Homo sapiens: one gene and its partners. The protein of the gene in region 4 purifies or fractionates together with the protein of the main gene of each other region. This does not show direct contact. Each region holds a gene or a part of one and is shown on either strand. Other genes may lie near its edges. The genes, in order: SERPINB8, CHERP, RBM17 and ZRSR2.

Evidence for each region.
Region 1: the proteins of ZRSR2 (region 4) and SERPINB8 purify together in Homo sapiens (affinity purification with mass spectrometry; 3 studies listed by BioGRID and IntAct, with this or other methods). This does not show direct contact.
Region 2: the proteins of ZRSR2 (region 4) and CHERP purify together in Homo sapiens (affinity purification with mass spectrometry; 3 studies listed by BioGRID and IntAct, with this or other methods). This does not show direct contact.
Region 3: the proteins of ZRSR2 (region 4) and RBM17 purify together in Homo sapiens (affinity purification with mass spectrometry; 4 studies listed by BioGRID and IntAct, with this or other methods). This does not show direct contact.

The regions. Positions count from the first base shown.
Region 1 is NC_000018.10:63,980,080-63,987,111, reverse strand, and holds part of SERPINB8 (serpin B8), read right to left. Parts: intron 5,392-7,032; coding exon 5,274-5,391; intron 3,534-5,273; coding exon 3,391-3,533; intron 2,020-3,390; coding exon 1,867-2,019; intron 855-1,866; coding exon of another isoform or gene 846-854; exon of another isoform or gene 462-845; intron 239-461; coding exon 1-238. UniProt on the Homo sapiens protein: Has an important role in epithelial desmosome-mediated cell-cell adhesion.
Region 2 is NC_000019.10:16,532,407-16,539,438, forward strand, and holds part of CHERP (calcium homeostasis endoplasmic reticulum protein), read right to left. Parts: intron 3,231-7,032; coding exon 3,046-3,230; intron 743-3,045; coding exon 605-742; intron 344-604; coding exon 192-343; intron 1-191. UniProt on the Homo sapiens protein: Involved in calcium homeostasis, growth and proliferation.
Region 3 is NC_000010.11:6,113,002-6,117,947, reverse strand, and holds the end of RBM17 (splicing factor 45), read right to left. Parts: intron 4,441-4,946; coding exon 4,367-4,440; intron 3,900-4,366; coding exon 3,801-3,899; intron 2,710-3,800; coding exon 2,637-2,709; intron 2,496-2,636; coding exon 2,392-2,495; 3' UTR 501-2,391; downstream 1-500. UniProt on the Homo sapiens protein: Splice factor that binds to the single-stranded 3'AG at the exon/intron border and promotes its utilization in the second catalytic step. Involved in the regulation of alternative splicing and the utilization of cryptic splice sites.
Region 4 is NC_000023.11:15,793,459-15,800,490, reverse strand, and holds part of ZRSR2 (U2 small nuclear ribonucleoprotein auxiliary factor 35 kDa subunit-related protein 2), read right to left. Parts: exon of another isoform or gene 4,442-7,032; coding exon of another isoform or gene 4,241-4,441; intron 620-4,240; coding exon 538-619; intron 1-537. UniProt on the Homo sapiens protein: Pre-mRNA-binding protein required for splicing of both U2- and U12-type introns. Selectively interacts with the 3'-splice site of U2- and U12-type pre-mRNAs and promotes different steps in U2 and U12 intron splicing.

The DNA of each region.
Region 1 (7,032 bases), on a different chromosome or scaffold from region 4:
CCACGAAGCACTTGTGGGCAACCTTGGACAGAGGCACATTCTTCTCAGTTGACATTCCAGAAAAGTCTGCCTTGGCTTCGTCAAAAGCATCGATCATTCCTAATCTTCGAAGGAAAGGCTCCAAGTCATAACTCTCCTCCAGCTTTAATCTGGGAAGGAAAACTTGAACCTTACTTTTTGTCAACTTTTCTGAATTTGTCCAGGCTTTGAATTTCTCATATGTAAGTGCTTTTTCCACCTAGGATAAGAAAGACTCAAACCTTAAAATTTAGATGACAATAGCCTGATACCCACACACCCATTTATTACCCCTCCCCCAATGACATGCAATTAGATGGTGAGTTCTGGTCCAAGAAAATCTACAGATATTTTCTTTTATAAACACACCAAGATTTTCTCCCAAATTTTCATCTTTTCACAGTTTTATGGAGACAAGTGTAAAAGAGCTAGTAAACACCTGAGACAGGCAGAAATTTTTAATAAAAACAATTTGTACCTAACTCCTTTCAAATGTTAAAAACATTTTTTAACAGTTTAGAAAATTCTAACCAATTCATTACATTAATCTTCATGCAATACATACTACTGTGAGTGGGAGAGATTGTTTGACAAAAGACAAAGAGCATGGCTCAGAACTCTGCTTCTGAGTCTAATGAGGGGACTATTCAGGGTTAAATCAGAGGGCAACTCAGAGTAAAAGAGAGGGAATTGTGTTTCATCTGAAGATGAAGGGAGGCATGAGAAGGGAGCATGAGACGAGAAATGGGGAATGCAAGAAGACTTCATCAGCATCCTTGTTTGTCCTCTGCCTGTCCTGGAGTTAGCTTCAAATTCTTCAAGATCCATCACTCTTTCTATTTATCAATAAGGTAGAAAGAAAAAAGGGAGAAAGGCCTTCCACTAGCATCTCCCCTTCCCTTTAACAACTGGAGCCCAGGTGGGTACTCCTCTCCAACGAGCATTGTTTTGATTTTGACTCTATTTCTAGACTCTCCTAATTTTCTCATAAGTGGCCACAACAGATGTCATCCCTGACTTAGGGCAGTAGCTTTCTGATTCCAAAGGGAAGCCAGGAAAATCAAGCAGCCCACCCTCAACATCCTGTGCATTGGTGTGCCAGAGCTGACCCCTATCAATTGTTAAACCCTCAGTAGACTAAAGTCGGCCATGGTGGGAGTATTTACCATGTCATGAGAATCAGCAAACTTTATAAATGAAGGCTTCTCCCACCTCCCAGAGCTGGTTTACAAGTGCACTATTAGTCTTGCACCTCCTACCTTGCAAGTTTACCACTTCCCTTCCTGGACTCTGTTCCTTTTCTGTCACAGTAAGACTTTTCTCTCCTCTTGTATAAGGTAAATTTCCCACCTGTACTTTAGACTTTTGCTATTCATAGTGTGGTTCCAAGCATCTGTATCACTTGGAATCTTGTTACAAATGCAACATCTCAGGCCACACTCCATTGAATCAAAATCTGCACTTTAACAAGATCACTAGAATCATATATGTGCATTAGTGTTTGAGAATCACTGCCAAGATTGATCCCTACCCTTCTTCCAGGACTTTTGTGCAATAATCATTGGGCTTTCAAATAGACCTTCCATGCAGAATAAAGAATAATATTCCAAATAATAATATATTTAGAACTCTCTCTTCTTAGCTTCATCAAAACTTGTCCACTCATATATGTATACACTCAACAGAAATGCATGAACATGTTCATCAAAAGACACACAATGATGTTCACCCAGCACTGCCTGTAATAACCCCAACTGGAAACTCCTCAAATGCCAATTGGTAGATGAACATAAAGAAATGAGCTCAGCTGGACTCCACAGATACTCAGGCTCATTGCCTGGAGCTTACCACGGCGAGGTCCGTGTTGTCATCGGGAAGCAGAATGACCATGCTCAGCTCCTCTTCCACATAGGGCAGCTCCAGGACCTGGGTGTGTACCTCATCCGCATACCCCATTTTAAACTTAGCTTCCTTAAACATCATCTGCACTGTCTTTTTTTCCTAACGGAAAAATTAAAGTTCGATTACTGAAAAGTGGGTATAATTTACTAAAAATAGGATATATCTAACTCACAGAAACTCTAGGTGTGTATAATTACTGTTTCTGCACATTTATGCTGATAGATATAAAATCTTCATTAGTACATCTTAGTATTGAATAGAACAAGCTATTGTTCCAGCAGATCAAATATTACCAGGTGAGAAAAAAAAAACAGTTTGGTAAATGGAGAAGGACACAAAAATTGACATTATCCTTGGAAGAAGCTGTGTTTGCTTTTTTGAGAACATTCACAGAGAAGCTTTCTCATGGAAGCTTCCAACTAAAAATTCTTTATCGAAGTTAAGATAAATATTCAGGCCCTTGGGCTGAAGGATCTGGTTAGAAAAGATGTACGGTCCAAACTCTGGAAAGTTGCCTTGTTGTAGAATTGGTTTTATGGCCTTGGCTTTCTTAGGAAGGGGACCTTGAAGAGATGTGTAAGGTCTGCTGTTTTTAAAGCCTGCATCAAATATATTTTTAACTTTCATATCTTTGTGCAATATGAGAGTATCATATTTGATGGATGTCAAATCCCAAGCTAACAACTATTGATACCAGCCATTTTAATATTCAAAAGGGAAGGTAAAGTTAGGCTTTACATCTGCTAACTTTTTTTTCTTGTGCTCAGGATTGTATAACTTTGACTTTTAAGGCAATAAATAGGCATAGTTGCCACTGATATTGCAAAAAGGTATCTAACTAAATACAGAGAGTAATAGCATCATGCAAACATAATTCCAAGGCTTAGAAGAAATTCTCCTCCAATCCAAATCATATGACCAGAGATGGAAGGTAGATTTGATCAAAGATGGAAAAACAAAACTATCAATACCAAAATTATTTTTGTTTCTCTCTTCCTTCCGCCATTAAAGATACACAGGAGGCATTAAATTCATTCAGAAAAGAAGCCAGGCACAGTGGCTCCTGCCTGTAATTCCAGAACTTTGGGAGGATAAGGCAGGTGTATCACTTGAGGCCAGGAGTTTGAGACCAACCTGGGCAATATGACAAAACCTTATCTCTACAAAAAATACAAAAATTAGCCAGGCCTGGTGGTGTGCACCTGTAGTCACAGCTACTTGGGAAGCTAAGGTTGGGGAATCATTTGAGCCTGGGAGGTCGAGGCTGCAGTGAGCTGAGATTACACCACTGCACTCCAGCCTGGGTGACAAAAAGAGACCCTGTCTCAAAGAAAATAAAATAATATAATATAATTCAGAAATAGATTAAAATCAAGATCATGTCAAATAAATTATTCATTTTTCCAAGAGAATATTTCCTGTAATATTACTTTAAGAAAGTAGCAGTATATCTGAAAAATCTTTCCCTACCTCGTTGGTTTTAAAGAGCATTCCCCTTGTGTACTTTCTGTCAAATTGCTCATTCCACTTTCCCTTGAAATAAATGGCATTCACAAGGACCAGCTTTGTCAGGGGATCGACTGTCCCAGCATCCAGTACCTCTGAAATCTTACCTATAAAGAATATGAGAGTTTATTGCAATTTGTGGGGAAATAAGCATTCTTTTACAAAAATCCCTTTGACACATAAGGCAGAGGCTTGGTTGAGAGACAGGCTGGAGTTCTGTCTTTCTGGGCCCCTGATGAATTAGGCGATGGTGTTTAGCAGTGTGGCATACACAGTGTAACATTTGTGCTTAAGAAAAAAATCTTGAAGTAGGAAGGGCAACTATCATTTTGCCCTCAATTTATGGATGTAGAAATTCAGGACCAGAGCATTTGCCAGACTTTTGCTGAGTGCACACAGGTGACAAGTGGCTGAGTTGAGAACATCACCCCAGAGTCTTGATTCTGACTATGGGGCAGTCAACCTTGGCACTATCATATCCAAGCCTCACCGCTATTGTCATTTTAAGCCAGATAATTCTTTGTTATGGGGGCTGTCTTGTGCATTGTAGGATGTTTAGCCAGCAGCATTTCTTCCCATTTTGACAACCAAGATTGTCTTCAGCCATTATCCAATGGCACCTGGAGGGCAAAGCTACCCCTGGTTGAGGATCATTGCTCTATGCATATATTCAAACCTCATCAGACAAGGAAAGCTTTCCAAAGGATGAGAGAACACAGATCTGTCAATGGGAGAAGGCAGCCTCTCTGAAGGGGGTGAATGGGGCAAAGGAATTAGGGGGGTAGAATAGAGGGGCCCAAATTGAGTTGTCCAATGAGAGGGTAACAAGGTCATCTCCAAGGTCCCCTTCAGCTCTAATATTCTGGGGGAAATGTGGGTGGTCAGCCTAAGGGAAGGAAGGGCATAAGCAGCCCTGGAAGAGCAGTGACAGGTATAGGGCAGTGGGGGGAAGGTGTGGAGAAACTTCTAGGTTCCTCAGGTGACAGTACTGTTGAACAACTGGAAAGACCACTAGGCAGATGATGTATGAAAACACAAAAGGCTCTTCCCTTCCCATGGTAATTATTGTATTGGCTTTCAGTAGAATCAGGGGCATTACTTCTGCTGGACACACAGTGGTTGCGACATAGGATGGAATGGATGCAATAATGAGTGCTAGGTTGGCCCTTGAAATAAGTGACTTAATTCCTCCACCGTTTACAAGTATCGAAATTACTTGTTAGGTATTTAGGATGCTTTAAAGTATGACTCCCCCTTTTTCCTACTGAAGTAAAGAACTGGCAGAAATATTTCTGGTGGGATGGAATGTGGTCTGGGCAGGGAACACTGCAGGCTCCATGTCGCTGCACCTCCAGAATAGGGAACAAATTCAGAAAAGGCCACACTCTGAGAGCAAATGTAGCCATGGCCAAGTTAAAAAGGAAGGAGAAGGCTGCAGATCAAACTACTGAGCTGTCCCATTACCACGCGGAGGAGATAACATGAGAGCATGAAATGTTGCCCTCTCTAAGCCGCAACTTAATTGAATGCCATTCTGTCTCCGAGCATGGAAGGGCCTCTCAGATAGAAGATTAACAGAATTCCAAGGAGGAGCCATTTTCCAGGGATTTTCCAGCACGGTCCACAGGGGAGGAGGTCAGAGATTCAACATTAGTTTTAGAAATCAGTACTTCATGATCTGATAAGAAATGACAGAGTTGCATTGCTGGCCTGTAAACTCAGCAAACACATACAAACAGGCCTGTGGTATGCAGGTCACAGTGGCAACACCCTGGGAAGTCCCATCCCAGTCAATCTAAGCCTCGTTGTATAGTAATTCCAAATCAACAGAAATGAAACTGTCTCACCTTCAGTCTTCTCTGCCACCCAGTCATTTATATGCTTCCTGCACTCTTCAGTGTCTTCAGCAAAGGACAACTCCTCCAGCTCTGCCTGATAGAACTTCTGACAGTATTCTTTAAAGTCCTGCAAACACAAAACACTGAGTTTAGTCTCATTTGGTAAAGGTTCCCACAAATGCAAAAGCATTTTGTTTTCTCTTACTGCATTTCTACAATAAGTGCTTGGACAGGTCACACTCCACTTCAAGGTGCATGCGTGCAATTAACAAAAATGTATGGGCCACCTATTCTTGCCTGGTACTGGGCAAGGTGCTTGGCTTGAGGAGGTCCACAGCCTGAGAAGAGGCAGCTGAGACACCCAGACACTTACAGGACATCATGAGCTGCCACTATCCACAAAACATCACAGGAGCATCCTTGTCAAACGCTCTCCACTGACTTTAATATTGCTTCCCTCACTAGGCAGTCTAACACACTTTTACTCATTTTGCATCACCAGCACCAACTACAGTATTGTGGTTTTGGTTAAACGAGAGGCTTTATAAGGGAACTAGATTGTTAAGAAATCGTGTTGAACTGCAAAGAAGGAAATAGCATTTTAGATCTGGGTCATATGGTTGGTTGGAAGAATACAGAGCAAGGAAGGCCCCATGGGAATGGAGCGTGATAGGCCTGGATCATAGGGTGTGTGTGCAACTGGGTTCATACGTGTGCATGCGTGTGAACATCTGTGTGCATGAGTGCACATGTGTACATGTGAGTGCTTGGGCACCTGCATGTGTGTGGATTGCATGCATGTTTGTGTGTGTGTGTACATGTGTATGTGTGTTTGTGTGTATCAGGGAGGGGATTAAGGGAAACAGTGGCAGGGGAAGAGCCTTGAAATGTAAGTTGGGGTCCAATCAGAAAAGTCCTGTACCCAACACATTAAAACCCAGATAACTTACCTCACAAAAACCTGGCTTTGGATATAATAGGCCTGGAAACTGGCTCCCAGCCTCTGTCCATTCCCTGTTCTCAAATATTTTAATTTCAGCCAAAGAAAGAGGATATAGAGGGAAGGAGGAGCCAAGCCACCAGGAAAAGTAGAGGTTGGCTCCCTGTGTCCCAAGTATTACAACAGTAGTAGATCAGGCTGATGTTCAAAAATGAAATGGATTCATCAGGAGATTCCTGGGATCCAGAGTCACCTTCTGAGGTAGATAAACCCAGAGCAGGCAAATTCCGGGAACAGCACCCAGCAGCTACCAGGACAGGGATGTATTTGAGCCTTAGAGGAGTCCTCTCAGAACCTCCAGCCAATAGGATGGCCAAGCTTGCTGCAATCAGTTCACTAATTTTAAGACAACATCACCCTGCATATCAGGTGGCATGATTTTTGAACCTCACTGATTGCATTATGCCAGGCTGGACTAGGGAACCTTGGAATTATATGCTGAAGTAAATAGAAACTGCTTAGATTTAAAACCTCAATTTTATGAACAGATTTTCATTTTAGAAAGACGATTGTGTCAGTTGTAGGTGCAATTCAGAAGAGGGCGGGCAAATTTAAGAGAATTTGAGAGGCTACCTCAGCAGGAGGCAGCCGAATAACCACACTTGGGACTGGGGAGGAGCTCTGTACAGCGTGTTGAATGATGTGGTCACTCAGGGACAGGGAATTAAGGGGGAGAAGCAGGGCTGCGTGCAGGAGAATTGACATATTGGGATTGATAACAGGGATGGGTGTATCAGTAACAATTTACAAAGGACGTAATTCAGAAGT
Region 2 (7,032 bases), on a different chromosome or scaffold from region 4:
CCTAGACCTCGCAGTCCTGGAGACAGAAGCCTGGTGGCTCACAGAGACCCCCCACCCGGGGTCCCCGGACAAGTGCCCCCTAGTCTCGGGACAGGCCAAGCCAAGCTACCGACCGGAGCAAGCGGCCACCCAGGAGGGTTGAGGAGGAGCGCGAGGAAGTGGCGCTCTGGGCACGGGGTGGCGGCGCTCACCAGTGGTGCAGCACGTCATTGATCAGGTAGATGAGGTGCAGCCGCAGCTCGAAGTGTGCCCCATCAGCCGTGATGCGGTTCCGGAGGTGGCCGGCCATCAGCTCACAGTGCGGCGGGGACTTGGCATTGCTGAACATCCAGTTCTTCCCGGCCTGCAACAACCGAGCCAATGACGAGTGAGCAGGGCCGCGGCTCCCCCAGGCACCCACTGCATCCCTGAGAGCGCGTCACCATCAGCTCAGGGAAGGACACACCATGAGCGTGGGGGGCACAGGGTCCCACAGCCTCAGGAGCTCCAGGCGGGAGGGAAGGGCACCCATTGTAACAGCCCTTAGCCCAGATTGGCTACGACAGGCCCTGCCTCAGGGAGGGACCAAGGGAAAGCTGGGCTCTGGGAAGTGCTGGCCCCTCACCGAGATGGCGTCCTTGGTGCACGTGTCGATGATGGGCTGCAGGAGGTTGTCAAACTCGTTCATGTCTAGCTGGGTCTCCTCCAGAAGCTTCTGCATCTGCTGCTCCACCGCGTGGGCCACGGCCGCTGTCACTTGCTCCTGCGGGCGGGGGTCGGTGGGGTCGAGAACACATGAGGAGGGACCCGCAGCCTGAGCCCTCCGGCCTGGCTCAGCAGGGGCGGGGTGGGGACATGGTGGCGATGCCCGGACTCTGGGCTGCTCTGGCCATCAGCTCCCTTGCTTGTCCCCAGCAGGAGGAGATTCTGTCTCTCATGCCTGCCGTGAATCTGTGACAGTCCCTCCTGGAGTGGGCAGGGCACTGACAGGACATACCAGGAGACAACACCTGCCCTCCAGGTAACCAAGGAAAACACTGCAGCCCAGAGGAACAAACAACCTCTGCAAACCAACTCAACAAAAAACAAAGGCGGGGCGCGGTGGCTCATGCCTGTAATCCCAGCACTTTGGGAGGCTGAGGCGGGAGGATCGCTTGAGCCCAGGAGCTCCAGACCACCTGGGCAACGTAGCGAAACCTCATCTCTACAAAAAATAAAATACAAATTAGTTGAGCATGGTAGTGTGTGCCTGTGTTCCCAACTACTTGGGAGGCTGAGGCGGAAGGATTGCTGGAACCCAGGAGTTCAAAGTTAAACAGTGAGCTGTGACTGTACCACTGCACTCCAGCCTGAGTGACACAGCAAGACCTTGTCTCTAACAACAACAAAACAACAACAACAACAACAACAAAAAGAAAAGAAAAGAAAAAAAAAGACAAATGAGGCATGGTGTGAACGACAGGCAATAGAAGAAGAGGATACACCCATGGCCTCTAGTGAAGCAAGAAGGGGGCAATCTCATTCCTCAAGAGGAAACACCGGTTAAAGTGCGACTGGTAAAAACAGAGCTGCCATGCGGACCAGCGGTCAGTTACGGCTGGTCAAGGCAGGCCTCCCACTCCATGATGAACAGAAGCTGAGGGTGAGCATTCTGGAACTTTCTTTTCTTTTCTTTTTTTTTTTTTTGAGATGGAATCTCGCTCTGTCGCCCAGGCTGAAGTGCAATGGCATAATCTCAGCTCACTGCAACCGCCACTTCCCGGGTTCAAGCAATTCTGCCTCAGTCTCCCGCGTAGCTGGGACTACAGACACCTGTCACTGCACCCAGCTAATTTTTGTATTTTTTACTAGAGACAGGGTTTCACCATATTGGCCATGCTGGTCTCAAACTCCTGACCCTGTGATCCGCCTGCCTTGGCCTCCCAGAGTGCTGGGATTATAGGCTGAGCCACTGTGCCCAGCTGGAATTTTCTGAGAGCAATATGACAGTGTGATTTTATGCCCTGAACCTAGTACTGAGCGTGGGGTTGGTGTTTTGGAGGTTTGGTATTCTATTCCTCTCATTTTTCTGGCAATGCACTTGTAGTATTTTATTTATTTATTTTTTCTGAGACTGAGTCTTGCTCAGTCACCCAGGCTGGAGTGCAGTGGTGCAATCTCAGCTCATGCAACCTTTTCCTCCCAGGTTGAAGCAATTCTCCTGCCTCAGCCTCCCAAGTAGCTGGGATTACAGGCGTGCACCACCACGCCCAGCTAATTTTTGTATTTTTCATAGAGACAGGGTTTCATCATGTTGACCAGGCTAGCCTCGAACTCCTGACCTCATGATCTGCCCATCTCAGCCTCCCAAAGTGCTGGGATTACAGGTGTGAGCCACCACACCCAGCCAATGCACCTGTATTCTATTTGGCGAAAGTTATCAAACTGTTGGACCAGGAAGGACAAAAGGGTCCTTCTGGCCAGGTGGATCACCTGAGGTCAGGAATTTGAGACCAGCCTGGCCAACCTGGTGAAACTCCATCTCTACTACAAATAGAAAAATTAGCCGGGTGTGGTGGTGCATGCCTGTAATCTCAGCTACTCCAGAGGCTGAGGCAGGAGAATCGTTTGAACTCGGGAGGTAGGGGCTGCAGTGAGCTGAGATCACGCCTCTGCACTCCAGCCTGGGCGACAGAACAAGACTTAAAAAAAAAAAAGGGTCCTTCCCCAACCAACAGCTCCAGGTGACCTAGCTACTGTGTGGTGGGGCCAATGGTAGGCACCAGAGGCTGCCTGGCCACAGCCATTAGGGAGCTTCAAGGTGCATACGTGCCCCACAGTCCCACTCAGGGGGGTCCACCCCAGGGTGATGGGTGCACGCACGTCCAGTGGCTTCACTGAGATGAGAAGCAGCCTCTGTGTCTGGCATCAGGGCTGGGGGTGACAGTGGCTGACATGCACCGAGCCCTGGGTGGCAGGGGGGGCCCTGTCCTCACTGACACCTGTTATTCATTCTGATGAGCAGACGCAAAAACAGAGGCACAGGGGAGCTGCTGGTGTCTGGCCGAGGAGGCGGCGGGCCCATACCTGTCTGAGCGCCAGCAAGTGCTGCTCCTGCTGCTGGAGGTTCCACTGGCTCTGCTGGATGAGCTCGTCCATGGATGGCGCGCCCTGGGCCGGCGGGATGGGCGCGGCGGGGGCCAGCGGGGGCTGTGGCAGGGGTGGCATGGTGGCGGCTGGCTCCAGCTCCGGGGTCTGCTGCTTGCAGATGACTGGAGGGAGAGGAGGAGGGGTGCCCCATGAGAATGCAGATGGGGGTCTAGGTGTCCCCTTGGCCACCTCTCAGCCACAGGGGCCTCCCCCTCCCCAGGGACTCACCATCCACGAGGGCCTGTTCATAGCCTCATGCCCACGCAAACCAGCTCCTCCTAGTCTCGGGTCCTGCCCTCCCTCTCACAGGATCCCAGCCTCAGCATTCCATCTTCGGGCCGTCCCCTCCTCGGAGAACCTAGGAAGTCCCCTGGCCGCTCTCTCGCCAGCACCATCCAGTCCTTGCGCAGTGTCCTTCCGGTGCAAGCTAAGCTTGCCTGCCCACCTCCTCACCCACCTAGGCCCCACCTGATGCAGAACCCAGGCCTCAGTACCTCTCATCCTCCGACCTCCTCGGCCACTCCCTGACCTCTGCCACTTAAGCTACCCATTGACTGTTAAGATGTCACAGCCACCGGGCCTCTGCACATCTGGCCAGAAAGGCACGAAGCCGCACCCCCGAGCGCACACTGCGGCCTCCCCCACACCTGCCTTGTCCTTCTACTGACTCTCCTTGCTTCTCCAGCCCTTGGGGACAGAGACCCCTCTGCATTCAGGGGTGCATCCAGTTTGAGGCAGCAGTGAGACACCCATTCTGCCGGCAGAAGCCTGGGTCAGGGTGGGCGCAGGTCCCAACTCTGGCCAGATGGGGCAGGTGGTGAGGTCTCTGAGGAAGGGACCCGGCTCATAAGGAGGCCCTGGACAAGATGACCTGCCTCTCTCTCCGTCTTGGGGCCGCCTGGTCTAAATGTGACCAGGTACCCCTGGAGCCCTCCAGAGCCCCACTCCAAGGGGACCAGGACAAAGCCAAAGATAAGGGAGGTGGGGTGTCAGGTGGAAGGTGTCGCCCCTCACTGGGCGCTCAAGTCAAGTCTCGGGGCTGACTGTGCCCTCCAGTTTGTGCACCCAAAGCCACCCTACAGGATGACCCCCAACTTCTGCACTGAATCCCACCCCTCCCACTGTCTGAGGGACACTGCTTATTGATATTTCTTCTATCTCTTATTTCTCCAACTCCTCCCTCTTTACCCGTCCCTCCCCAGCAGCATCTAAACACATTGGGCTGGGCATGATGGCTCACGCCTATAATCCCAGCACTTTGGGAGGACAAGGCGGGTGATCACCTGAGGTCAGGAGTTCGAGACCAGCCTGGCCAACATGGCCCTGTCTCTACTGAAAATGCAAAAAATTAGTCGGGCGTGGTGGCGGGCACCTGTAATCCCAGCTACCTGAGAGGCTGAGGCAGGAGAATTGCTTGAGCTTGCAAGGTGGAGGTTGCAGTGAGCCGAGATGGCGCCACTGCACTCCAGTGTGGGTGACAGAGTGAGACTCCATCTCAAAAAATAAAAAAGGAAATAAATAAACACATCAGAATATTCTGGGTTGGAAACTTCTCCCTTTACCCCATGATCCCTCTCTAAACGATTTCTCAGACAAGACTCACTCCAGATCTTCACCTCCCCTTTATCTCAGCCTGGTGCCTGCTTGCCACTCCCCGCACCCCCCTCCTTCCCCCAGGCAGCTGAGGACACCCTCACTCAACTCAGCCCCCCGGGCCTGTCGCAGGTGCTTGCCTCCCTTGGCCTCCATGTGTTCGCCCCCTCAGTCCCTTTCTCCCCCTTTACCAACCCCTCTCCCGTTGGACCCTCACATGCTGGGGTGCGCGGCCTGTGTTCTGAGCCCTGTCCTCCGCTCTACGCAACCGCCGGGCAACATGAGCTACTCATTCCTGTGGCTGCGATTGTGCATGGTGTGATTCCTAAATCCATCATCTCCATTCTGGATTCCTGAGCTTTGGCCCTAACCACCAACTGCACGGCCCACTGTGTTTCCAAGGGGCCTGTGTTTCCTCTCACCCCCTACACCTATGTCCCCTCCTGTGCTCCCCGCACCATGGTTGGCACCACCATCTGCCCAGAAACCCAGGCCAGAAGTAGCATGTGCCTCCCAGTGACGAGCCACATAGTGTCAAGGCGGCCTCCGAGACATCACTCCAATCAGTCTATGTCCCCGCTGTCACCACCATGGATCTGCTGTCACCTGCGTCACCCCAGAACCGGTCTTCCTGCATCAGGTCCCATCCCTCTACCTCTTTTTGACATGGCAGTCATGGTATTGCCACTTATGGAGTGGTCCCTGGGCTACCCAGCGGTGACAGACGGTTATGGAACCAGAAAGGGAGCATTTCAAAACCTTTCTAGCAGCGTGATGGTTCACGGTCCACATTGTTACTGTGCTTTGCAGAAGTTTTGGTCCACACACAACAGGTTAGAAACTTAAAACACAACACCAGAAATGGTCCTTCACCACAGAGTTCGTGAAGCTCCATTCTACAACAGTTGAGGCCCAGGCTTTAAGGCGTGGGGTGCAGAACTGGCTGTACTGTGGCTAACCCAGCTTCACAACACAGACCTAAACCTTCCACGAGTCTCTCCCACGCTTCCAGGATACACTCCTCACTCCTCTCCAAGCCAGGTCCCCGACTCCTCCCCAAGCCAGGCCTCCAACTCCTCCCCAAGCCAGGCTCCCAATTCTGCACCCCCACCTCTGGCCACTCCAAGAACCCCTCCTACTCTGGGCTTCAGCCACCCTAAGCTCTGGGTTCCCCATTCCCTCCAAGGGCTCCTTCCTCTGCCCGGAACACTTTTCTCCCCTTGTTTTCACCTGGCCAACTCCAACACACCCTTTACATCTAGCCAAGATATCATCACCCACAGAAAGCACTTCTTGGCTGGGTACGATGGCTCACGCCTGTAATCCCAGCACTTTGGGAAGCCAAGGTGGGCGGATCATGAGTTCAAGAGATCAAGACCATCCTGGCCAACATGGTGAAACCACATCTCTACTAAAAATACAAAAATTAGCTGGGTGTGGTGGCGCACGCCTGTAGTCCCAGCTACTTGGGAGGCTGAGGCAGGAGAATCGCTTGAATCTGGGAGGCAGAGGTTGCAGTGAGCCAAGATCTTGCCACTGTACTCCAGCCTGGGCAACAAGAGCAAGACTCCATCTCCAAAAAAAAAAGAAAGCACTTCTTGGCTTCAATCTTCCTGGGCTATAAGCATAAGCACCCTCTCCTTCCTCATAATGGCACCAGCTTCCAAGTGGCCACCCCCCCGCCCCAGAAAGGGAAAGCAGCCCTTAGCTCAGTCACCCAAGCCAAAGCACCGTCTGAGGTGTCTTCCTCCCCTGCTCATTACACCATCAGGTCGTCAATATGCAACTGGCGCCCAAGTTCATGGATTCTACCCCTTCACCCCACCTGCCCCCCATGCTCCCTCCCTCAGGCTCAACCTACTGACTTAATTCAGACCCCACCATCTCTCACCTAAACAACTGCCCTGTTTGCTCCCCTGCAGGCCTCACTGCTCCCCAGGCTGGTCCCTGTAGCTTGTCCTACACCACCGGCCACACAACCCAAGCCACCCTCTCCCTTGTTTAAAACTCTTGTGGCTTCCCGCTGCCTTTAGAAACGGTTTTTTTTTTTTTTTTTTTGAGACGGAGTCTCGCTCTGTCGCCCAGGCTGGAGTGCAGTGGTGCGATCTCGGCTCACTGCAAGCTCTGCCTCCCAGGTTCACGCCATTCTCCTGCCTCAGCCTCCCAAGTAGCTGGGACTACAGGCGCCCGCTACCACGCCTGGCTAATTTTTTGTATTTTTAGTAGAGACGGGGTTTCACCGTGTTAGCCAGGATGGTCTCGATCTCCTGACCTCGTGATCCGCCCGCCTCGGCCTCCCAAAGTGCTGGGATTACAGGCGTGAGCCACCGC
Region 3 (4,946 bases), on a different chromosome or scaffold from region 4:
GTCTGATCAGAGATCCCAAGCGCACAACCCTACTCAACCTGCAAGACAGGCTGGGAAAGCAAGTTTCTAGTCTCTTGCGGGGAGGAGGGAAACAAGGAAGTTCCCCACACAGAAAAAGGCGTTTCAGGCTGGGCTCGGTGGCTCACACCTGTAATCCCAGCACTTGGGGAGGCTGAGGCGGATCACGGGTCAGGAGATCAAGACCATCCTGGCTAACACGGAGAAACCCCGTCTCTATTAAAAATACAAAAAATTAGCCGGGCGTGGTGGCGGGCGCCTGTAGTCCCAGCTACTTGGGAGGCTGAGGCAGAAGAATGGCGTGAACCCAGAAGGCGGAGGTTGCAGTGAGCCCAGATCATGCCACTGCACTCCAGCCTGGGCGACAGAGCAAGACTCCGTCTCAAAAAAAAAAGAAAAAAAAAGAAAAAGGGGTTTCAAAAACTCACAGATGGGCCACCAAGAATGACAAACGTCTATTACACGGAAACTTGCCAGTTACATTGTAGCTTACATAATTTTTAATTTTTATTGAAATTTAAAATTTTTATATTAGCTTAAATGTTAATATTGAAAATTAATTTCAAATTTCTCAAGTACTAACTTGCAGGAGATTTAGAAATTATTCGACTATCAGAAATTCATTATAAATAAAGCACTAACTGATTAACACAGTTATTTTAAAAATAAAAGACTGGGGAGAAAGGCACACACCAAGCTGTCCTCATGCGAACGGAAATCAAGTAGTATGAGTTGGTTGCAACTCTCTGGTTGCTGACCATGAGAATGTTAGGAAAAGCCACCCATTTAGGTGCAAACAATGTTTTACAAAGCATAACAACAATAAATGCATGCATGAAAGGTGGGTTGGAACCATTAGTTTCTAAAATTAAACAAGCACACTCCGGTACTTGTAAGCACAAACATGGTTTCCACTTGAGGAATGGTATGCCTAATTCCATAGATAACTGAAGTTCCAGGGCTGCTTTTGATTCTGTCTTCCACAATGTTCAATTATGTAATTTACCTCACATTCCTTAACCCCAACTTACTTTACAGAACAGGTGCACTTTTATCATAAAACTCAATTTTATTCAATAAAATAATACCACAAAAGATAAAATGTTATTCTTTTATTTATGTTAAATAAAAACATGAGAAAATCCTTTTTTAAAAAGGGTCAGAATATTCCTTATGTCTCCAAACCAAGTCCATGGATGCAAAGAAATGCTGAGTTCTTGATACACTTTCATGTCATAATAACCAAAGGAGACAGCACGGGCTCGAGTCTTTCAGCTGCCGCTTAGGAAAGTCACATGCAGTATTTGGGAAAGCAAGGAACAGAACACAGGCATGAGTATTTTCTGGAAATACCTCCTGCCCTGGCAATGAACCTCAGTACCAAATATTTTTGTTTTCTTTTTTGTGGTCCTGATAAATTTTTAAGCCACACATCCTACTGAACTTCAATGATACAATTTCTCACAATTCCAGAATTCTATTGGCAGTACAGTTTACTTGGCCAACGTGGATAATCTTATAAATTTTAAAATTACATACAATAGAACACTATTGCAAATTTTGCCAGTAGAAACATGACCCCAAGGAACTGCCATTTCCAAAACATAACTGGGCACACATTTACAATGCACCTGCTAGGTTTTGAATTCATTTGTCATTTCTGATCTACCCTTAAGACTATGCTTGAATCTCTGAAAACAAATGCTAGATTCATGATTTCTATACCCACATACTCCATAAATCCATCACAAACCCTACAGTCTGATTTAGCCTACGGCAAATGATTCATCCAATAGGCCATGGTATGTTCACAATTCTTCAATCTTATTCAGGTTGTAAAGACGTTTTTCTACGACTGGAGTCACTAAGAATTTCTCTGTTAGAGAAAGCATCATTTTCACCTTTGGCACACTGCCAAGATGATACTTTACTACAGAATTTATGAAACTACAATTTAGTAACTTGCAGGCTTTATTAAAAGAAAAAGAAAAACAAAGAATAATTTAATATAACCCCATGTCCCAAAACTTTCTAGTTTTTTTTTTTTTTTTTTTTTTAGTGCAAGAAATGCTGCATCATTGAAGCACTTGAGAATTACCATGAAATCTAACAAAAAATGTCATCAACTCAGGAGTAATAATAAAAAAGAGAAACAACCAGAGAGGCACACAGATTGTTGTTTTTTTAAAAGGATTTTTATACTATATTAAAAAACCACAAAATAAAAAAGGGATCAATCAACATATATCTTAGAAGTCCTTCCAAGAGTCTTGGTATGCAACAGCCATGGAGGCTGTGACCTTTTTCCTTCTTTTCTCAGCCTGCAGTTCATTTAAGGATCACCGGAGATGACTCGTGCTCTAGTTCTTAAAATCAAACTTGTTCTGCCAAATCCAAGACCCTGAATTTGTCCAAATTGTAGAAACATGCTTTTACCACCCGTCCACCAAAATACCTCCCATTCAAGTCAACAACCGCTGAAAGGCAAACAAAAGACAGTTAATACAGGTATCCTATAAGATAAAGGTTTAACTTTAATTAAACAGTAACTTTACTTGTAAAGATTAAGGCTGTAAATTCAACTTTTTTATTCTTTAATATTTAGCTGTACCACTAACCTTTAATTGCTGATTCAACTCTCTCAAATTCTAAAAATATCCGTACTGCTTCATCATCAGGGGCACCAGGAATCTGGAAGAAAATGAGAGCGTGATGAGTAAAGGCATTTGAGATTGCATTGAATGAGTTTTCTCTTTTAAATGATTTCTCAGAGTGGATATTCTAATTATCATCATATACAGTCAAGTAGTTGTCAAATACCAAGGAAATAAGTATAATTTGTTCATCATCAAAAACGTACTGAATGCCTGTTTTTATGACAGGCATTGTTAGGTGCCAGGAACACAGGGCTAGGCAGTCTCTGACCTCATAAAGGCCCTGTGCCAGCTGATGACGTAAACAAATAATTATGTGGTCAACAAACAGCAACAGGATAAAGAAACAGAGGAAGCAGAGCTTTCAGATTAAAAAGGCTGGTGCCCTAGTGGCCTTTCACATCAGGTCTCATTTTGACTAGCTCTGTCTAGCTTTCCTAGCCCTCTGTAATTCCACCCACCTAAGCACTTCTGCTAATCCCCAACAGGCCCATCCATTCCATTTTGGTAGTCCTGATCTTCACTGTCTCCTACGAGCCATTATCCCAATCAGAATACCCTTCCCTGCAAATCCCACCTGTTCGTTTCAAAGCGCAGCCCATATCTGCTATTGCTCACAAGGCAGTCTATTTTTTCACTGATCTAATCCTTTTCTCAACTCCTGAACTTAGTCAATACTACCTAGTCTAGTAACTGAATATCTTTCAGTTATTTTATGTGTTTCTTCAACTGAACACACCACTGAGAGTACAGAGCATGCTTCCTGTAATCCAAGTGCTCTCCGCACAGTGCAGTGCATGTGAGAGGCACTAAATACTCACCAAATGACTGAAACCAAAGGCATGTCTAAGGAACTAAACTACTGAGCACGCTAGAATCAAGGTCTTCAGTCATCATACTGATCCTCAATCATGAAGCATTCCTGTTTCTTCATCAAATAAAACTTGAAATCATTGTCTTTATGTTTAAAACTGTAATAATTGAGCAAGAGAAGTACAAATAACCAACGCCTGTCACCTTCTGCAGTAAGAATGTTACTTATAGCATACCCTGTCCTGTTTGTAGAAAATGTTTTGTAATGTGCCAATTACAACTTGTGTTATAAACATCAAAAGAAAACACTCTTACTTCAAATATCACACATTTTCCAACTTTGCCATATTTTTCACATTCTTCCTTGGTTTCAACTTCCAAGTCTTCATCCACCTCTCCCGCACCAACCATGTTCTTTAAACACAAAAATAAACAAATTCAAGTACCAAGTATAACTTACAAACACCTAGCAGAGGTATATAAATATGACTTAGTGATGGTAAATGTTCTCAATCCCAAACGACATAATGAAAAATTTCATCCCCAAAGTACCCAAAAGTTAGTATTTCTTAAAACACTAAAACATATATTAAGCCTGTAAAGAGTTACAAAAGCATCTATGCAAGCACCAAAATGTATAAACTATCTGAAGCTCTAGCAATTTCAAATATTTAATTACTCACTGCAGTCTTAAACACTGTACTTAGCAAAGAGACTTACACATTAGTGAAAAATCTAAAATCAGCCTTACGTGGGATCTGCCCAAAGTATTATTTGCAAAAGTATCATTTTCAGTTTTAACTTTTAGGGGGAGCAGGGTAGGCTGGGGTGACACACACAAATCTAGGCAGGCAGAGAGCTTGCTTTCCTCAGCTTCTTACCCTTAGTAAGACCACTTTAGTAGGACACTTAAGTATTTCAGTCAGCGGATTTGAATCTGACTTCTTGGATGCATCTGTATCAAAACATACCATTAGATGTGTTACAGAACTGAGCAGCATATCATTAGATGTGTTACAGAACTGAGTCCTACTTACAATAATTAATTTAATTTCAATAGCGATCCCCACCATTTATGTCCTAGGCATCTACACAATTGGTCTCTGAGCGAAAACACAGCCTTATCTGCAATAAAAGCCTCTGCTTTGCTTTGGCATGTTTTTACAATAGCATCTGGATGTTTTGAGCCTCCACCATTACTTGCAATTTTTGCTCATCTCACTTCCCAAAGGGCTGACAGGGCATGTGAGTGATAATTCCTATAGGTGAGTTGACTTGGAGCAAACGTTCAAGGTCACGGGCCCAGGGGAATATGCAGTTACTAATCCAGCCACCGGCTGCCTTACTTCAGATAACCTCACAAGTCGGGACAACTGTTGGTTTCTGGCACTCACCTGTCAGGCTCGTGATGTATCCTAAGCTGTGCATGAACGGGGCTGCCAGAAAAGTTTTCTTCTTTCT
Region 4 (7,032 bases):
TACAGGTCAGGCGCAGTGGCTCATGCCTATAATCCCAGCACTTTGGGAGGCTGAGGCAGGCGGATCACTTGATCACAAGAGATCAAGACCACCCTGGCCGACATGGTGAAACCCTGTCTCTACTAAAAATACAAAAATTAGCTGGGTGTGGTGGTGCACACCTGTTGTCCCAGCTACTCGGAAGGCTGAGGCAGGAGAATCGCTTGAACCCGGGAGGCGGAGATTGCAGTGAGCTGAGATCATGCCACTGCACTCCAGCCTGGCAACAGAGCGAGACTCCGTCTAAAAAAAAAAAAAAAAAAAAGAAAGAAAAAAAATTATAAATTAGCAAAAACAGAAGAAAAGTACTTCCATTTTTAAAAAAAATAACATCTAGTTTTAGCCCATCAACTACAGATTTAAATACTTTATACAGGATATTTTATAAGACCTATTTGGTACAAGATTTTATACAGAAGACTGGTACTGGTTAGTAAAGGTTGATAATATTCCAATAAAATAACTTCATTCACTTTAAGTGTTTCAATTAGCACTGACCTCTCTCTTTCCAATAGCTTCTCTTCTTCTAGTTGTTGTTCTTCAATAAAAGTGTCCTCCTCTTCCTCCTTCTGTGAGAGTCCTAGGGAATTTAAATGTTTTATTAAACTGAGTGCTGCAAATCCTTGGTCAAAAATTCAGGAAAAAAATACATGTAATCTTTAATGTATAAAATTATGGTAAAAATCTTTTTCTTAAACTTTCTAACAAAAAGGTCTCTGATCAACCTTCTTTGGTACAACACAAGCATCAAAAAGGACAATAGGGGTGGCAGATAGCACATTACATTTAAAAATTAATCAATGGTTCCACAATTATACTTAAAAAGGAAATTAGCTTGGCATGGTGGCAGGCACCTGTAATCCCAGCTACTCGGGAAGCTGAGGCAGGAGAATCACTTGAACCCAGGAGGTGGAGGTTTCAGTGAGCCAAGATCGTGCCATTGCACTACAGCCTGGGCGACAAGAGTGAAACTCCATCTCAAAAAAAAAAAAAAAAAAGGTGGTGGGGGTGTGGAAGGGAACATCCATCTTCACAGAAGAATGGTAACTAAAAAATGGAGAAAAACTTAAGTAGAAAAATCATCACTTTTGCAACCCCCACTGTAAAAATTTAGACAAAGACATTAAAAACATCGAATGAAAGCTTGCTAGGAAGAGTATATTCACACTATCTCAACATATCACCCCAGACATGAGGACTAATTAGAAAAGAAAAAATGCAATGCTTTCCAATGGAGCGATCTGGACACTTTTTTTTTTTTTTTTTGAGACGGGAGTCTTGCTCTGTCGCCAGGCTGGAGTGCAATGGCGCGATCTTGGCTCACTGCAACCTCCGCCTCCTGGGTTCAAGCGATTCTCCTGCCTCAGCTTCCCAAGTAGCTGGGACTACAGGCGCGCGCCACCATGCCCAGCTAATTTTTGTATTTTTAGTGGAGACGGGGTTTCACCACATTGGCCAGGATGGTCTCAATCTCCTGACCTCGTGATCCGCCTGCCTCGGCCTCCCAAAGTGCTGGGATTACAGGCATGAGCCAGCATGTCCGGCCCTGGGTGGGTAACACCTTAACCACAGTTAGCATCACCGGGAGTGCAACAACCTGATGTGAAAGGTCTCATGATGTATGCAATAAGAAGTTTACAACATCTGCTCTGTAATCCTTTGTTCTAAAGAGTGTTGTTACCTGAAGTTAATCATGAGAAGACAGAACAATCCAGAATACAGGGCATTCCACAAGATAACTGGCTTGAGTTTTTCAAAACAATCAATCCTGGTTTGGGGAAGTTTAAATATGGCCTGTATATGATACCATTGAATTACTTGCTCATGTACTCAGGTGCAAGTTTGGTATTGTGGTTCTGCGGGAGAATGTCCTTATTCTTAGGAGTTGCAAGCTGAAGAATTTAGGGGTGAGGTGCTGCTATCTGCAACTGCCATCCAAAAGGTTCAGAAAAAATGTTCTATGTATGTATCTCTTTAAATAGAGAAAAAGAAAGAAAGGCCAAACTTTAACAACTGGCAAATCTTGCTGAAGGGTTCATGGATATTTATTGTGCTCTTTTTTTCAACTTTCTGTAGATTAGAACATTTCCCAAATAAAAACATGAAAAAACAACTTTTAATAGAATAGACATTTACATCCTCTCCCATTCAAAATTTGGGAAAAAAATCAGTGAAAGTGGAAGAGAAATGGAAGACTGAAATAATCTTAAAGAAATGTTACAGATGTCAGGCTTAAAGAAAAAAGAGTCTGTTTGTCACATGTGTTGAGTACAGTTCTAACTGAAGGCTCATCCAGTCTTAGATAATTACAATAATTTACTTTTCTTAAGTAAGTAAACTTTATTATTTCAGCAGCTGGAATTAAAATGGGCAACAAATGTAGAATAAGTTCTCAATCATATAAAATAGTATCTAATTGTTCAGATAATTAAATGATCTAATGTACTTAAAGCGCCAGAGAACCTGGCACAGAGGATATGGCCTGACTACTTGCAGAGGTATGCCATAGATTAGACAGGGCATAGACACAGCTGACACTCACAAACACCTGTTGACTGACTCACTCAACTCCCCATCACCTCGAAACCAAGCTCATATACTCCACAGAAGTGATTGCTAACAGTTCTGGGTACAGCATTTTCCCCACGTGTACAATCGGACATATGCAATACATATACATACAATACAGCTGACCCTTGAACAACACAGGTTTGAACCACCTTGGTCTATTTAAATACAGATTTTTTTTCAGTAAACACACTGGAACATTTAGGGGATATTTGCAACAATTTGAAAAAAAAAATAGGTAAGTGGCATGGCCTAGAAACACTGAAAAAAATTAAGAAAAAGGTATGTCATGAATGCATAAAATATATGTACATACTAGTCTATTTTATCATTTGCTACCATAAATATAAATCTATTATAAAACGTTAATGCAGAGCTGGGCGTGGTGGCTCATGCCTGGAATCCCAGCACTTTGGGAGGCCAAGGCGGGCGGATCACCTGAGGTCAGGAGTTCGAGACCAGCCTGGCCAACATGGTGAACCCCATCTCTACTAAAAATACAAAAATTAGCCGGGCGTGGTGGCAGCCCCCCGTAATCCCAGCTACTCGGGAGGCTGAGGGAGGAGAATTGCTTGAACCCGGGAGGTGGAGGTTGCAGTGAGTCAAGATCGCGCCACTGCACTCCAGCCTGGGAAACAAGAGCAAAACACCGTCTCAAAAAAAAAAAAAAAAAAAGTTAATGCAGATACTGTTAAGCAATATTGTGCTGGCTTGAGCAGCACATATACAGATACTGTTACAATATAAGTTAAGTGTTTTATTGTTTCCTTGCTTAAAGCATTTGAAACAGGCCAGGGAGCGGTGGCTCATGCCTGTAATCCTAGCACTTTCGGAGGCCGAGGTGGACGGATTACTTGAGGTCAGGAGATCGAGACCAGCCTGGCCAACATGGCGAAACCCCATCTCTACTAAAAATAAAAAAATTAGCCAGGTGTGGTGGTGCACGCCTGTAATCCCAGCTACTCAGGAAGCTGAGGCAGGAGAATTGCTTGAAACTGGGAAGCAGAGGTTGCAGTGAGCCGAAATTGCACCACTGCACCCTAGCCTGGGCGACAGAGCGAGACTCTGTCTCAAAAAAAAAAAAAAAAAAAAAAAAAAACGATTTGAAACAAAATGATCTCTGACTTCATTCCATTCTAAGACAGAGAAGTTCGGTCTCAAACATTTTTCCTTGAATATTACTATAAAAGTTGTGCTACAACATAATCATTGACAACTTTTTTTAAAGTTAAAATTTATCAAAACTTATATTTATAGACCATATATGGCACATTCACAGTTGAGAAAAATGTAAACAAACATAAATATGCAGTATTAAATCATAACTGCATGAAATTAACTGTAGTACAAAACAAGGAAAAAAACGCATCCAATGAGGTACAGAAGGAAGAAAAAAATTAACTGTAGTACACACTGCACTACTGCAATAATTTCATAGCCACCTCCTGCTGCTATTGCAGTGAGCTCAAATACTATGAGTATTCACTTAAAACACCTTGTGACACTACTCATCTCTGCATGAGCAGTTCATCTCTTCAGTAAATTGTGTATGGCAGTAAGAAGTGATCTCTGGCGTATTTTTCACTGTGTTTACTACAAAATGGTAAACCTTGAATAACATCATGAGACTCACACAAAGTGCGACTAGCGATGCTGGAAGTGCTCTCAAGAAGCAGAGAAAAGTCATGATGGCCGGGCGCGGTGGTGCGTGTCTGTAATCCCAACTACTCTGGAGGCTGAGGCAGGAGAATTGCTTCAACCCGGGAGGCGGAGGTTGCAGTGAGCCGAGTTCATGCCACTGCACTCCAGCCTGGGCGACAGAGCAAGACTCCATCTCAAAAAAAAAAACAAAAAACAAAAAAGAAAATCACTGAGGAGAAAGGATATCTGCGTGAATAGGACGCCCAGCTACTTTTTGTATTTTTAGCAGAGACAGGGTTTCACCATGTTGGCCAGGCTGCCCTCGAAGTCCCGACCTCGTGATCCACCCGCCTTGGCCTCCCAAAGTGCTAGGACTCCAGGCGTGAGCCACTGCGCCTGGCCTGAACAGGTTTTTAATGCAGATGAAAGTATCCTATTCTAGAAAAACACCACAAAGGACATTTAGTAGGAAGAGAAGCAAGCAGCAGGATTGAAAACAAAAAGAGACAGGCTAACTCTACTGTTTCATGAAAACGTAGTGGGGTTTATGATCAGAACTGCCCTTATCTATAAAGCTGCTAACCCCCACCCCCAATCCTTGAAGGGAAAAGATCAGCACCAGCTGCCTGTCTTTTGGTTGTACAACTAGAAGGCCTGGACAATGGAAATCCTTTTTTCTGAATTGGTTCCACTGATGCTTTGTCCCTGAAGTCAGGAAGTACCTTGCCAATAAGGAACTGGATTTTAAAATTATTTTAATATTGGACAATGCCCCTGGCCACCCAGAACCCCATGAGTTCAACACTGAAGGTGTCAAAGTGGTCTACTTGCCCCCAAACACAATGTTTCTAATTCAGCCTCTAGACCAGGGGGTCGTAAGAACCTCTAAAGCTCATTACACGTGGTACTCTACGGAAAGGATTGTCAATGCTATGGGAGAGAACCCTAATACAGAGAGTATCAAGAAAGTGTGTAAAGATTATACCATTGAAGATGCTATTGTTGTTATAGAAAAAGCCATGAAAATCATCAAGCCCAAAACAAAGTCCTGCTGGAGAAAAAAATGTGTCCAGATATTGTGCATGGCATCATTGGACTTAAGACAGAGCCAATCAAGGAAATCGTGAAAGAGATTGTAAATATGGGGGGGGGGGAAAAGTGCAGGGGGGTCGGGGTGAAGGGTCTCAAGATATCTTGAAGAAATTCAAGAGCTAACAGACACACCAGAGTAGTTAACAAAAGCCAATTTGATGGGGATGAGTCCTTCCAAACCAGTGCAAGGTGATGAGGAAGAAAACTGAGGTGAAGCAGTGCCAGAAAACAAATTGACACTAGACAATCTGGCAGAAGGGCCAATTATTCAAGACTGCTTTTGACTTCTTTTATGGACCCTTCTATACTGAAAACTAATGCATTTAAACTAAAGCAAGTGGTGGAAGAATTGGTACTGTATAGAAACATTTTTAGAGAAATGAAAAAGCAAAAATGTCAGACAGAAATTATAATGTATTTCTGCAAAGTTACACCAAGTGCCGTCTACCCTCTTGCCTTCCCTTCTACCTCCTCCACCTCTTCCACCTCTGCCACCCAAGAGAGCAAGACCAAATCATCCTCTTCCTCCTCGGCCTACTCAACATTAAGACAAGGAGAATGAAGACCTTTATGATGAACCACTTCCATTTAATGAAGGGCAAATATATTTTCTCCTCCTCGGGATTTTCTTAGTAACATTCTTTTCTCTAGCTTACTTTATTATAAGAATATGGTATATAATACATATAACATACAAAGTATGTGTTAATCAACTGTTTATGTTATTGGTAAGGCTTAGAGTCAACAGCAGGCACTTAATAGTAAGTTTTGGGGGAGTGAAAAGTTATATGCAAATTTTCCACTGTGGGGAGGGGCGGGGGGCGGTCAGAGTCCCCTAACTCCCACATTGTTCAAGGATCAAATGTATATCCAATGGTATTATACAGGTTGAGCACCCCAAATCCAAAAATGAGAAATATTTTGAGTGACAACAATGCTCAAAGGAAATGCTCATTGGAGCATTTCGAATTTTGGATCTTTGGATTTGGGATGCTGAACTGGTAAATACAACGCAAGCATTTCAGATAAGGGATACTCAACCTGTACATGTAACTGTACACACAGAATCATGCTATAGTTTTGCAACTTGCTTTTAATATCTTAATTTCTGACGAGGTAGCTTGTTTCCAGTTATCTGAAGTAGAATGGATGCCAAAGAAGCTATCTGTAATTAAGAGCTCACTATTCCAGAAATCATTTGCCAAGGCACTCCAATCATTTGCCAAGGCACTCTCATAGTTACACTCAACATTCTAGCCTTCTGGGTAATGTTTACCCATCTAACGTGTGCTACAATAAACAGCAGTGTTCCTGGCCGGGCGCAGTGGCTCACGCCTGTAATCCCAGCACTTTGGGAGGCCAAGGTGGGCAGATCACCTGAGATCAGGAGTTTGAGACCAGCCTGGCCAACATGGTGAAACCCCATCTCTACAAAAGTACAAGAATTAGCCGGGCATGATAGTGGGTACCTGTAATCCCAGCTACTCAGGAGGCTGAGGCAGAAGAATCACTTGAACCTGGGAGGCAGAGGTTACAGTGAGCCTAGATCGTGCCATTGCACTCCAGCCTGGGCGAGAGAGTGAGACTCTGTCTCAAAAAAAAAAACCAGGAGTGTTCCATAGTCTACAGTATTCATGAAGTACCACTAGGCAAAGAATTGTGAGTTGGAGTGGGCAAAAGTAGGAGCAGAAG